4 separate regions of the Homo sapiens genome follow, and all the other regions are reported to be linked to region 1. The links are microRNA targets in miRTarBase. Many come from high-throughput screens and were not tested one by one. Region 1 holds a microRNA gene; each other region holds the end of a gene's coding sequence.

The links. The annotated mature microRNA hsa-miR-521 reads AACGCACUUCCCUUUAGAGUGU and lies in region 1 at 3,060-3,081, shown strand. An mRNA with a match to its seed (bases 2 to 7 or 8) in the 3' UTR can be bound and repressed. Matches are read on the target gene's strand: a 7mer-m8 pairs with bases 2 to 8, a 7mer-A1 pairs with bases 2 to 7 and ends in A, and an 8mer does both.
Region 2: the mRNA of ADRM1 is a reported target of hsa-miR-521. Seed matches in the 3' UTR shown: 7mer-m8 at 360-366.
Region 3: the mRNA of ERCC8 is a reported target of hsa-miR-521. The part of its 3' UTR that is shown has no 7-base or 8-base seed match.
Region 4: the mRNA of FOXI2 is a reported target of hsa-miR-521. Seed matches in the 3' UTR shown: 7mer-A1 at 756-762.

The regions. Positions count from the first base shown.
Region 1 is chr19:53,745,630-53,750,278 of GRCh38, forward strand. MIR521-1 (microRNA 521-1) reads left to right here and starts at 3,007; the gene lies at 3,007-3,093. LOC124904765 (a long non-coding RNA gene) reads left to right here. Exons shown (of 6, transcript XR_007067334.1): 3 at 574-777; 4 at 1,277-1,515; 5 at 2,639-2,761. It also overlaps the pseudogene RNU6-751P. RefSeq lists a silencer at 302-514 and an enhancer at 1,573-2,171.
Region 2 is chr20:62,308,438-62,311,437 of GRCh38, forward strand. It overlaps ADRM1 (ADRM1 26S proteasome ubiquitin receptor), which reads left to right. Exons shown (of 10, transcript NM_007002.4): 9 at 1-33; 10 at 218-425. The coding sequence ends at 324. It overlaps LAMA5 (laminin subunit alpha 5), which reads right to left. Exons shown (of 80, transcript NM_005560.6): 72 at 2,964-3,000; 73 at 2,725-2,870; 74 at 2,465-2,657; 75 at 2,228-2,392; 76 at 1,982-2,135; 77 at 1,741-1,874; 78 at 1,551-1,644; 79 at 1,279-1,398; 80 at 628-1,038. The coding sequence ends at 899. Among named protein-coding and RNA genes, the nearest start is that of ADRM1, 6.9 kb to the left of the region's middle.
Region 3 is chr5:60,871,954-60,874,953 of GRCh38, reverse strand. ERCC8 (ERCC excision repair 8, CSA ubiquitin ligase complex subunit) reads left to right here. Exons shown (of 12, transcript NM_000082.4): 12 at 271-3,000. The coding sequence ends at 339. Among named protein-coding and RNA genes, the nearest start is that of ELOVL7, 29 kb to the right of the region's middle.
Region 4 is chr10:127,738,577-127,741,576 of GRCh38, reverse strand. FOXI2 (forkhead box I2) reads right to left here. Exons shown (of 2, transcript NM_207426.3): 2 at 394-3,000. The coding sequence ends at 2,612. Among named protein-coding and RNA genes, the nearest start is that of FOXI2, 2.9 kb to the right of the region's middle.

The sequences.
Region 1 (4,649 bases):
GGAGTTTTTACCGCCCAGCCTGTGGTCTATCCTGGAGAATGTTTGTGTGTGCGACAATGTATATTCTTCACCATCGTAGATTCCGTTTTGGATGCTCCCATCGGGACTGTGTGTCCCTGTGCTGGAACTCGAGTGAACACTTGGCTCAAAATCCACTGCTGTTCTCTAGAGATCTGTAGGGTCCAGCCCTACTGGGCCTGTGGGTTTTTCTCTTCGTGAGCAGATAGGAGAGATTGTAGAAATAAAGACACAAGACAAAGAGAGAGAAGAAAAGGCAGCTGGGCCTGGGGGACCACTACCACCAAGACGTGGAGACCGGTAGTGGCCCCGAATGCGTGGCCGCGCCGTTATTTATTGTATACGAGGCAAAAGGGCAGGGTAAGAAGTGTGAGTCTTCTCTAATGATAGGTAAGATGACGCGAGTCACGTGTCCACCGGACAGGGGGCCCCTTCCCTATTTGGTAGCTTAGGCGGAGAGAGATTGGGGACAGCTTACGTCATTATTTCTTCTATGTATTTCTCGGAGAGATCAAAGACTTTAATACTTTCACTTATTCTGCTACCGTTATCTAGAAGGCGGAGCCAGGTGTGCAGAGCGGAACGTGAAAGTGGACCAGGAGCGTGACCGCTGAAGCACAGCATCACAGGGAGACGTTTAGGCCACCAGACGGCTGCGGGCGGGCTTGACTGATGTCAGGCTTTCCACAAGAGGTGGTGGAGCAGAGTCTTCTCTAACTCCCCTGGAGAAAGGGAGACTCCCTCTCCGGGTTTGGGAAGGTAAGGGGGTCCTTCCCAGGCACTGGCGCTACCGCTGTGCTAAGTGACGGGTGCCTTCCCCCTGGTGTTACCGCTGGACCAGGGAGCCCTCTAGTGGCCGTGTCCGGGCATGACAGAGGGCTCACGCTCTTGTCTTCTGGTCGCTTCTCACCGTGTCCCTTCAGCTCCTATCTCTGTATGGCCTGGTTTTCCCTAGGTTATGATTGTAGAACAAAGATTATTATAATATTGGAATAAAGAGTAATGCTACAAACTAATGATTAATAATATTCATATATAATCATATCTATAATCTATTTCTAGTATAACTAGTCTTATTCTATATATTTTCTTTGTTATACTGGAACGGCTTGTGGTGAGTTTCTTTATTATACCGGAACAGCTTGTGCCTTCGGTCTCTTGCCTCGGCACCTGGGTGGCTTGCCACCCACAGAAATCCTGCCCGTTTCTCTTGGTTAAATATAATGTATTTCTAGTAGGCATTGCTTCTTCTTTCCAGAGACAAAACTCAGGAGGATTGTGCTATGATAAACAAGGCTAACCTGCTGATTCTCTGAAGCAAGGAACTGGAGATGGTCCTTCTAAGGGTTTATATTCTGGATTCCAGGAAACATGCAAACAGGACCCATAAATGCATCTTTATTTTGGTGCCCATTTTGACCTGGTCAGGAGAATTCCAACAAAAAATCCACGGTGTTGGAGCAAGATCTCAGGCTCTCAGGCTGTGGCCATCTAGAGGTAAGAAGCACTTTCTGTTGTCTTAAAGAAAAGAAAGTCCTTTTTTTTTTTTTTTTTTTTTTTTGAGACAATGTCTCGCTCTGTCGCCCAGGCTGGAATGCAGTGGCGTGATCTTGGCTCACTGCAAGCTCCGCCTCCCGGGTTCATGCCATTCTCCTGCCTCAGCCTCCTGTGTAGCTGGGACTACAGGCGCCCGCCACCAAGCCCGGCTAATTTTTTGTATTTTTAGTAGAGACGGGGTTTCATCTTGTTAGGCAGGATGGTCTCGATCTCCTGACCTCATGATCCACCCGCCTCGGCCTCCCAAAGTGCTGGGATTACAGGCGTGAGCCACCACGCCCGCCCAGAAAGTGCTTTCTTTCAGAGGGTTACGGTTTGAGAAAAGCAGCATTGAAGTTGACGCTGATCTTGGTAATACATTTGCAGAGCATGCTTATGGTCAGACGTGGATGATGGTGGGGTTTTGTTTTTGTTTTGTTTTTTATCTGAGACAGGGTGTCTCTGTTGCCCAGGCTGGAGTGCAGTGGCACATCCAACCTAGATCTCTTGGGCTCAAGTGGTCCTCTTTTTGAAACAGAGTCTCACTCTGTTACCCTGGCTGGAGTTCAGTGGCAGGAACTTGGCTCACTGCAATCTCTGTCTCCTGGGTTCAAGCAATTCTCTGGCCTCAGCCTCCCGAGCAGGGTTACAGGCATGTGCCACCACGCCCGGCTAATTTTTGCATTTTTTTAATTGATTTATTTGTTTGTTGTTGAGACAGTCTCACTCTGTTGCCCAGGCTGTAGTGCAGTGGTGTGATCTCAGCTCACCGCAACCTCCACCTCCCATGTCAGCCTCCTGAATACCTGTCTCCAGGCATGCACCCCCACACCTGGCTAACTTTTGCATTTTTTGTACAGATGAGGTTTCACCATGTTGCCCAGGCTGGTCTTGAACCCCTGAGCTCAAGTGGTCCTCCCACCTCGGCCTCCTAAACTGCTGTGATTAATGGTGTGAGCCACCGTGCCACACCCGTACTTGTTTGTTTCTGCTCAAATTGTATTGAGGAGCTTTTACATCCTAGTCTGTGGTCTATCCTGGAGGATGTTTGTGTATATAACAATGTACATTTTCAACATTTTAGATTCCATTTTGGATGCTCCCATCGGGACTGTGTGTCCCTGTGCTGGAACTCGAGTGAACACTTGGCTCAAAATCCATTGCTGTTCTCTAGAAATCCTGCCCTATTCTCTTGGTGAAATATAAGGTATGTCTAGTCGGCATTGATTTTTCTTTCTGGAGACAAAACTCAGGAGGGTTGCCCCTGCATGAACAAGGCTAACCTGCTGAGCCTTTGAAGCAAGGAACTGGAGATGGTTTTTTTAGGGGTTTATATTCTGGATTCCAGAAAACATGCAAACAGGGACAATGAATGCATCTTTATTTTTCTGTCCATTTTAACCTGGTAAACGAAAATTTCACCAAAAAACCCAGAGTCCTGGAGCAAGAAGATCTCAGGCTGTGACCCTCCAAAGGGAAGAACTTTCTGTTGTCTAAAAGAAAAGAACGCACTTCCCTTTAGAGTGTTACCGTGTGAGAAAAGCAACGTTGAAGCTGATGCTGATCTTGGTAATAAGTTTGCAGAGCCTGCTTATCATCAGACTTGGACGACGGTGTAGTTCTGTTTTGGTTTTGAGTTTTTTGTTTGTTTGTTTTGTTTTGCTTTTGAGATGGAGGCTTGCTCTGTCGCCCAGGCTGGAGTGCAGTGGCGTGTTCTCAGCTCACTGCAACCTCCGCCTCCCAGGTTCACGCCATTCTTCTGCCTCTTGAGTAGCTGGGACTACAGGCGCCCGCCACCACGCCTGGCTAATTTTTTGTATTTTTAGTAGACACAGAGTTTCACTGTGTTAGCCAGGATGGTCTTGATCTCCTGACCTTGTGATCCACCCGCCTTGGCCTCCAAAAGTGCTGGGATTACAGGCGTGAACCACTGCGCCCGGCCTTAATTTTTGTATTTTTAGTAGAGACAGGAGGCTGAGCTTTCAGTGAGCTGAGTTCGTTCCACTGCACTCCAGCCTGGGCAACAGAGTGAGACTCCATCTCAAAAAAATAAAAAATAGGCCGAGCGTGGTGGCACATGCCTGTAATCCCAGCCCTTTGGGAGGCCGAGACAGGTGGATCACCTGAGGTCAGGAGTTAAAGGCTGGCTGGGCCAACAAGGCAAAACCTCGACTCTACTAAAAATACAAAATTACACCTGTAATCTTAGCTGCTTGGGGGGCTGTGGCAGAAGAACCTCTTGAACCCAGGAAGAGGAGATTGCAGTGAGACGAAATCATACCATTGCACTCTAGCCTGGGCGACAGAGCGAGATTCTGTCTCAAAAAATAAATAAGTAGGGCAGACAGGGTGGCTCACGTCTGTAATCCCAGCACTTTGGGAGGCAAGGCGGGTAAATCACAAGGTCAGGAGTTCGAGACCAGCCTGGCCAACATGGCGAAACCCCATCTCTACTAAAAATACAAAAAAGTAGCTGGGCATGGTGGCTGGCACCTGTAGTCCCAGCTACTTGGGAGGCTGAGGCAGGAGAATCGTGTGAACCCAGGAAGCGGAGGTTGCAGTGAGCCGAGATCGGGCCATTGCACTCCAGCCTGGGCGACAGTGCGAGACTCTGTATCAAAAATAAGTAAATAAATAAACAAAATAAAAGTAAAAAGAATTAAATAGATAAATATGGTACCATTATGAATTTGAGTGTCACCTTTGTGCAGGGGTCATGGTAATCTTTGTTATTTCAATTTTTTTATGCGTATTGCCAAAGCAAGCACATATGCGTAGGAATTATACTTCCTGTGAGAATACAATATATGGAGCTTTCTTTTTTGTTTTTTCTGTTTGTTTGTTTTTTGAGACACAGTTTCACTCTTGTTGCCCAGGCTGGAGTGCAATGTCACGATCTCAGCTCACGGCAACCTCTGCCTCCTGGGTTCAAGCGATTCTCCTGCCTCAGCCTCCCAAGTAGCTGGGATTGCTTGCATGTGCCACCAAGCCTAGCTAATTTTTTGTATTTAGAGTAGAGATGGGGTTTCTCCATGTTGGTCAGGCTGGTCTCGAACTCCTGACCTCAGATGATCCATCCACCTCAGCCTCCCAAA
Region 2 (3,000 bases), not on the chromosome of region 1:
CTGCAGAGGCTGTGGAGGCCGCCAACAAGGGCGGTAAGTGGCTGCGCCTGCACCTCCAGGCCAGAGCCAGGGGCAGGGTCCATTCCTGTCCCCCTGGATCTGCAGAAGTGGGGCTGAGGGGGTAAAGGTCACAGCCCTTCTGCCCTTGATCCCATCGCTTTGATCCCCAGTTCTGGGCAAGGGTTAGACACCACCTTGTGTCTTTAACGTGTTCTAGATGTGGAAGCGTTTGCCAAAGCCATGCAGAACAACGCCAAGCCCGAGCAGAAAGAGGGCGACACGAAGGACAAGAAGGACGAAGAGGAGGACATGAGCCTGGACTGAGCCACGCGCCGTCCTCCGAGGAACTGGGCGCTTGCAGTGCGTTGCACACCCTCACCTCCCACCCACTGATTATTAATAAAGTCTTTTCTTTTACCTGCCAATGCTTAGTTTCTTTGCCCAAAGGGAGTTTCGGCTGGACAGGTGCTAGCGTGGGGAGCTGCTGTAGGGTCCCAGAGACAGTTAGTTATTTGACCTAACAACGGAAAACGGTCACCCCAGGAAGAGTTTGGTGCCTCTGTCCAGGCCGGTTCCAGATCTGTCTTGAGACTCACTCTCTCCGTATTTAAGTCAACATTCATTCGGTTACACAGAAGTTACTTTTTAATTTTTAAGGAGGAACCAGTGATGATTGGTGACAAATCTCTCACAATTAAAAATGGGTGGAAGGGCCAAATATAAAAACATTTTGCAGTATTTTATTCTTTCGTTTAAGAAGCTATAACTTAAACCATCTTCAGAAACAAGATCTGTCACCCGTAGAGCTTAGAGTCCAAATAGACACCTATGAGGCGAGCACAAGGGGCGGTGTGAGGCAGCTGCAGGGGCCTGACCAGGGGCCGGGGTTGGCTGTGTCCTAGGCGGCTGGGCAGCCACTGGCCCCCACTGCCCCGTGGACCTCCACAGAGCGAGTCATGGCGACGGGGGACCGGTTCACCGCCAGCCTCCTCATGCAGCCGCAGTAGGCGGGGGGCCAGGGCTGCACGGCCATGGGCTCTGGGGGCACAGGGAAGATGGAAGAAGGCTGGTTGGTGGGCAGCTAGAGACCCACAGGCCCTTCCCAAACGTCAGTGCCCCACCCAGCCCCTGTCTCATTCCACATCATAGGAGGGTGGTAGGGGGGTGGGAGGAGGGTGGGAGGGGGCAGGGGGTGGAGGGGTGGGGGGAGGGTGGTAGGTTACGCAGCACCTAGTCCTGAGGGGCAGCTCCCCCACCCTTGATCAAGGCCGCACTCACCAGGCAGGCCCCCGAGGTACAGAGGGGCTGGGGCACCAGCTGCAGCCGCCAGCAAGGGGCCCACGGTGTGGTTGCTCTGCGCGTCCACCTCCAGCCGGAGCACATTCCCGCTTTTCATCACTGGGAGAAAGGGGGACTCCTGAGGCCAGGTGGTCCTCAGCCCAGCCTCTCTCCAGCCCCAAAAGAAGCCACCCCACCCAGAGTCCCGCCTGGCTCCCGCTCTGCAGAAGGGTGGGGGTGGCAGAGTGCCCTGGCCACAGGAGGGGCCTCACCCGCTAGCCGGTGCCACTGGCCATCACACAGCACTGAGGGGCGGGTCACTGACGTGGAGAACTCCCCTGCTCCGTCATCCGCCCGCAGCAGGACCTGGCGGGGTAGGAAGGGAGGGTCAGGCTATGCCCCCGAGGTCACCAGAATGGGGAGGCAAACCCTGCCCTGGCACGCCACCTCTGCCAGGCTTACTTGCTTCTCGGTCACCTGCAACTGCAAGTAGGGGGGCGTCCGGGCCTGGCCCAAGTGGAAGATCAGTCCGGTGACTGCCAGGGGCCGCACCTCCAGTTCCAGGCCCACATCAGGCAGTGTAGCTCCTGGGAGGTCTGCGGGGAGGGGTTGTGATGGAGAAGAAAGGGGGGGCCCCTCCCCAGAACCTCCTGGAGCCCCCTGCCCTGCCCTGCTGAGGCCTGGGATGCCAGCACCCACAGACCTAAAGTGATAACTCCCCCGCTGCCTGGGAAGAACAGGCCCGCCTCCAGGGGGCCCAAGATGCAGGGTGTGACCCCTGCCATCCGTGTGGGGGCCCCCAGGGGCCTCCCGTGCAGCCTCAGTCTCTTCACACAGCCGCTGAACCCGACGGTCACCTATAGGAGCAGACCGGGCAGGGATCAGGGCCCAGGGCAGCTGAAAGGGAACAGTGGGTGGGGAGTGGGGGCTGGGGCAAGATGGTTCTCACCGGAAGTTTGGAGCTGTGGCTGCTGGCCGGGAGGCCGCCCACAAAGAGGGTGTGGGGCTGGGGGTGCTCTGCCCCCTGGTGCTGCCGGTGCGGCCCCTCCTGGCTCCAGGCCCGGGCCCCGTCCGTCACCAGCAGGATCCGGTTCTTCTCCCAGCGCACGGAGACCTGGGGGCAGGAGATGGGTCAGGGTAGGGCTGCCAGGCCCTGCCCACCACCTTCCTTCTTCTCGGCCCTCACCTTGTGCCAGCGGCCAGGCCGGGAGCGCTGGCGGCTCTGGGCGCGGAGCCGAGTCCCGAGGCCTTCCATCTGTGCAACGAAGTGGCCATTGCTCAGGAAGAGCGCCAGGGAGGGGCTGCCGGGCCTCAGACGGGCAGTGAAGAGGAGGAGGCCTCGGGAGCTTCGCGGGAGGACGTGCATGGAGAGACTGGGCCTGGAAGCGGAGCTGGCGTCAGCCTGCGCGGCCCCTCTCAGCCCACCCCAGCCGGGCCTGGCCTTACCAGTTCCTATGTCGGGCCAGGATGCCCACAAACTCCAGGTGACTGGACAGGGAACCCCCAAACTGGTAGGAGTCTCGGGTGGTCCTGAGGTGTGGGGGCAGCATGCAGGCAGGATGCCGGGCGGGCTGACGGCTGCGGCGGGAGGCCTGGGGGCGTGGATGGTGAATGCAGGGGCCGCCCACACAGGGGCCACCCTTCCAGCCACCCCAGCTCTGCCTGCTCACCCCTGGGGTGCCCACCTTCCGGGCGGTGGCCTGCAGTCCTCTAGGCCCCAGG
Region 3 (3,000 bases), not on the chromosome of region 1:
GTATGTGTGTATGTATGTATTTGTGAAGTGATTAAAGGAAACAGGGTGTTTGGATAAAGTCTGGTGTTGTCTGTTTCAAATGAAGTTACATTATCTTATATTGTATATGGGTTGTTTCTTATTTTTGTTCTGAAATTAACAGTTATACATTTTCTTCCAAAATAATGTAATTGCTATTTATCTGATATATTTCATAACTTTATTGTGAGCCTAAAATTATGAAGTAGAAAAAACAGAATCTTCCTTTTTCTTTATCTTTTTTTTTTTTAGACTACAACAAAATCACAATTAAATCCGGCCTTTGAAGATGCCTGGAGCAGCAGTGATGAAGAAGGATGAATATCATCTTTAGTACCTTTTTGTCTCTGCTGAAACTTTTTAAATGAGACTGTGTTTTTTTCAACTGTATGGTCTATTCCTGACAGCTAAATTAGCCCTAAATGTGGGTAATATTTTTCCTCATGTTTTAAAATGAGGTTAATATTTGCATAAAATCCTAAAACAGACTTCTGTATAGTTTATTTAGTCAAAATGTGTTCCTTGATCCCAGATGTTGTGGCCTGGGAAAGCCCTCATTGCTACAGTACAAGTAACACAAGTCGTTGTACCTCAGTTGTGACCTTCAGCAGATTTTATGAACTATAAGATGCAGTCTCAGAGGATCAGCAAGTGGAGGCCATCAGTATTGACTTTCTCTTACTTGCTGTACTATCAGCCTGCTCGTTTCCACCTTTAAGAATGATTTTGCCAAGAATGATTATATCAAAAATAGTAGTTGAAATGGTAACATCAAAATTATTTTATTCTTTCTTCTTCATGTATTCACATTTTTCAGTGGTTTCATTTAATTAACCATGCTTTATGTTAAACATTTTGGGGCTCAATGTCTCCTACTATCCAAAATGTGCATCACAGGAGGCTTTTAACTTTGTGAAAATCCCATGTTTGCTTTATTTTATTTTAATGTCAGAAGGCAGTTTGCGCTAATGCTTGAACTCTTTTTCTGTGAAACTCATTAAGGTATGACCAAATCCTGCCTCATTAATTCAAGCAGAAAATATCCTGGCAGGGAATCTGGCTTAAACATGAAATGCTGTAATAAAATTTCTATGTTATTGTCTCCGTCTGTGTCAACCCACACGTGATTATCATGAAGGTAATCTTAATTTTCCCTTCCTGATCCTTACCAGCAGTAGACTAGTAAATGAGGCTTTTATGAGCTTGAATACCAAAAGTAAACAGTTGTTGAGGGTTTTTTGTTTTTTTGTTTTTTTCCTGAGATGGAGTTTCACTCTGTCGCTCAGGCCGGAGTGCAGTGTTTTGATCTCAGCTCACTGCAACCTTCACCTCCCAGGTTCAAGCAATTCTCCTGCCTAAGCCTCCTGAGTAGCTGGGATTACAGGCTCCCGCCACTGCGCCCGGTTAATTTTTTTGTATTTTCAGTAGAGATGGGGTTTCACCATGTTGGCCAGGCTGGTTGCGAACTGCTGACCTCAAATGATCCACCCGCCTCGGCCTCTCAAAGTGCTGGAATTATAAGCTTGAGCCACTGCACCCAGCCAGTTGTTGAGTTTTTAAGTGTATAAGGGTTAGACCTCCTATCAGACCTTTCCAGCTAAATGTTTTCCAAACACTTGCTTTTACAATTGATTTTTTTTTCCAATTGGCAGATAAAATTGTATGTATTTACCATGTACAACATACTGTTTTGAAGCATATATACATTATAGAATGACTAAATCTAGCTAACTGACATATGCCTCACATGGTTACCATTTTGTGGTAAGAACACTTTACATCCATTCTCTTATTTTTCAAAATTAATAGTAATCTTGTAATTGTAACTATAGTTACTATGTTGTGCAATAGGTCTCTTGCACTAATTCCCCCTTTTTAACTGAAATTTTGTATCCTTTGACCAATGTTTCTCCAACAACCCTAGCTCCTGGTAACCACCATTCTACTCTCTACTTCTATGAGATCAGCTGTTTGTGTATATGTACTACATTTTCTTTATCCATTCAACCATTGACAGATGCTTAGGTTGATACCATATCCTGGCTATTGTGAATAATGCTGCAGTGAACCTGGTAGTGCAGATATCTCTTTGACATACTGATTTCATATCCTTTGGATATAAGCCCAGTATTAGGATTGCTGGATCATATGTAGTTCTATTTTTAACTTTTTGCAGAAACTCCATACTGTCTTCCATAATGGCTGTACTAATTTACATTCCTACCAAGAATATGCAAGAATTCCTTTTTCTTCACAATAATGCAAGAAATCCTTTTTCTTCACATCCTTGCCAACACTTGTTATCTTTTGTGTTATTGATAGTAGCCATTCTAACAGGTGTTAGGTGGTATCTCGTTGTTTTAATTTGCATTTCCCTGGTGACTGCTGATGTTGATAATTTTTTCATATATCTGCTGGCCATTTGCATGTCTTCTTTTGAGAACTGTCTTTTCAGGTTCTTTGCCCATTTTTAAATGGGTTGTTTTCCTGCTATTGAGTTCCTTATGTATTTTGGATATTAACCCCCTATCAGATCTATAGTTAATATTTTTTCTCCATTCTGTAGGTTGTCTCTTCACCCTATTAATTGTTTCCTTTGCTGTGCAGAAGCTTTTTAGTTTCATGTAATTTCATTTCTGTACTTGTGCTTTTGTTACTGTGCTTTTGAGATCGTATCCAAAAAAATCATTGCCCAGACCAATGTCATGGAGCATTTTCTCCATGTTTTCTTCTGATAGTTTCAAATCATTGATTTATTAAGCCCAGGCCATTCTACTTTCAATCTTGTCCCCTTGGTGAGGATGCATTTGACCTTTGAAAAAGCTAGTTTGAAAAAGCTATTGGCCGGGCACGGTGGTTGTAATCCTAACACTTTGTGAGCTGAGACAGGCAGATCACTTGAGCTCAGGAGTTCAAGACCAGCCTGGGCAACATGGCAAAACCTCGTCTCTAAATAAAAAATACAAAAATTAACCAAGTGTG
Region 4 (3,000 bases), not on the chromosome of region 1:
TACTATTACCTACTAATGGTATAAAGCTTTGAATAAATGAGCAACTTTCAAACGGTAAAAAACGATCTTTGGGCAACAAACCAAAAGTTGAAAAATCTTAAATATTTTTTTCTCAATTTTAACATAAATACCATTGTTAGAGAAAAAAAAAAAGCAGCTTCCCAACATCTAGCAGTCATGCAGCCATGACATTCCATGTTTACATCCACACGTGTCAGCCAATTTTCTCAAAGCTCCACTGATTGTCCAATTGTCCATTGCATTTTCCAACTGTTGTCAAATTTAATTAGGAAAAGATCTTTCCAAGTTTCCTGCAAGTTCAGACTCTAAAATGGGGATGTTTGTCATAGCAGTGGAATTCTTATACGAAATAGCATACACATGCCAGCTATGTATGTTATATTGGTCTTTATTTTTAGCATTTCATTCTATTAAAATAGGTTCAAGGGATACTTTTTAAATGTATAAGCTAAGGAATTTATTTTCCTTTCCTGGTCTTCTTTAATTGTATTGCTTATGGGGAGTGTCCCCCCAAGAGAGATTGCGGGTTGGTTGTGAGTTTAGTTAGGCGACATCATCACCTTCAACACAACTGGCACTCTGCTCACCTGCTTGTGGAGGGCAGCAGCAGAGATGGCACGTGGAGTTAGGAGCCACTGCTGATGAAACATATGACCAGGGCCAGGTTTATCCCAACTCCTGGCTCCTTCTCTCCATGTTCCCCCGCCTCCTTCCTTCTCCCTCCCTCTCTGTCTTACGCACACACGCACACACACACACACACCTCACTCTTCAGCAGGGCCATGATGAGTCAGCTCTAGGGACAGTCAGGAGCCCTGCTCTCATTTCCAGCACTGGTGGCAGCTGCAGTGAGGGGCCCTGCAGGCAGATCAGGAATACCTGCGTGGCTGGGGCTTAGGATTGCTAAACCAGCCTGTCCCACTCCAAAGTAACAGTAACCTGTCTCCACTCTCTTCCTGGGAAGGACCCCTCCCACCCTCCCCCAAAATGCAGGGAAGATAGGTACCCCCATCAACAACAAGGTGGGTACCCCCCCCCCACCAACGTCTCCATCTCCAGGGAGTCCCAGATGCCACAAAGACTCAGGGCATCTGACTGGGGCACTTAGGTCCTCTAAGGAGTACAGAGGCCAAAAAATTCCTCTTCCCAGTGACTGGGGGCTCCTTGTCCTTCACAAAGATACCATCCCTAAGAAGGAACTGGGTGGGGCAGGGTTCAATTTACACAGGAGGCTGCTGTTCAGGAGCTCTGAACACACGCACAGCTTTGGCTCAAACTGTGGGTTTGGAGGGGAAAGAGACCAAAACAAGTGTGGCCTTCCATGAGCCTGTGTGAGTGTGGGTGTGGGTGTGGGTGTGGGTGTGGGTGTGGGTGTGGGTGTGTGAGTATGAGTGTGGGTGTGGGTGTGAGTATGAGTGTGGGTGTGTGTGGGTGTGAGTGTGGTGTGAGTGTGGGTGTGAGTGTGAGTGTGGGTGTGAGTGTGAGTATGAGTGTGGGTGTGAGTGTGGGTGTCAGTGTGAGTGTGGGTGTGAGTGTGGGTGTCAGTGTGAGTGTGGGTGTGGTGTGAGTGTGGGTGTGAGTGTGAGTATGAGTGTGGGTGTGTGTGGGTGTGAGTGTGTGTGGGTGTGAGTGTGGGTGTGGGTGTGAGTGTGTGTGAGTGTGGGTGTGGGTGTGGGTGTGAGTGTGGGTGTGAGTGTGGGTGTGAGTGTGAGTGTGAGTGTGGGTGTGGGTGTGGGTGTGGGTGTGAGTGTGGGTGTGAGTGTGGGTGTGAGTGTGGGTGTGGGTGGCACAAACCTGGACCCTTGGGGAACTCCTGGGTGCTGGGCACCGCTCCTGTGGTCAGTGGTGGCGGGGCCCTGGGGAGTTGCCTTGTCCTAGAGGGGGGTCATCAAGGACCAGGGCTGAGTGACAGGGAAGGGAGCTGGTATCCCAAGGGCGCTTTCTGCCCACGCAGTGCTTCTCCCTCCCACCACCAGCAGTTCCAACCATTAGCAAGACCTTCCTTACACAGGACCCAATGCCAACTGTCTCAGATCCCCTCACTGCAGGCTCCTGGCCCACCTGGAGCCCACTGCAGCTGCTCCTGAGCTCTGTCCCCCAGCCCCTGCGGCAGCTTCCCTGAAGCAGAAGGGAAGGCCCTGAGCCAGGTGGGCCAAGCTGGGTGGAGGTGGAAAGGGCCCCCACCACCTGGGCCGCTCTGGCAGCCCACCTTCTTCCCATCTGCTCTAAGGCTCTTTGGAGTCAGCCAGCCTCCTTGGAAAACGCTGGAGCTGAGGGCCGACCCGCCGCCCCTTCAAGGCAAATCCCTCGAGAGCACAGGTTCTAGACGCCCAGGGCGGCTGGACTTAGAGGCAGAGCAGGGAGGTTCCGAAGGTCGCCTGGGTGAGGGGTGCACAGCAGAAGGGCCACCCACCCCAAAGCCCAAGAGCCGCTCAGCCCAGCTCCCTGCTGGCCGAGCCGCCCCCGGCTCTGCGCTTCCTCCCAGGGCACCAAGGCCTTCAACGCCAACACGTGGGGCTGTCACCAGGGGAAACCGGAGGCCTGAGCTCAGCACCTCTGGACCCGCACCCGGCTAGCCTCCAGCCTCCCTTCAAACTTCGGTCCCTTCCCGGCTGTAGAGGAGGTGACTGAGGCGGAAGCCGGCGGCCGCGGTCTGGTGGCCAGGGGCGAAGCCAGGGGAGGGGTTAAGGGTCTGGGGAGCGTGGGTGGCGACTGTCGGTGGCCGCCTCCCGAAAGAAAAGTCGCCCGCCAGGCCCCCGGGGAAGGTGCCAAGGCCGCCAGCCAGAGCGCTCATAGCAGAAGCGAAACCGGAGAAGCAGGTGGCGGCCTCGGGTGCGGATGGAGAGGGCGAGGCCTGCAGGTCCAGGCAAGCCGCGCTCGGGGGCTCCAGCGCTGGCGCCTCGGCCCCTCCCACGCTCCTGGCTCCCGAGCGCACGGCCGCGCTGGCTTCAGCTCTCCTCTTCCTCTTCCTTCGGAAGT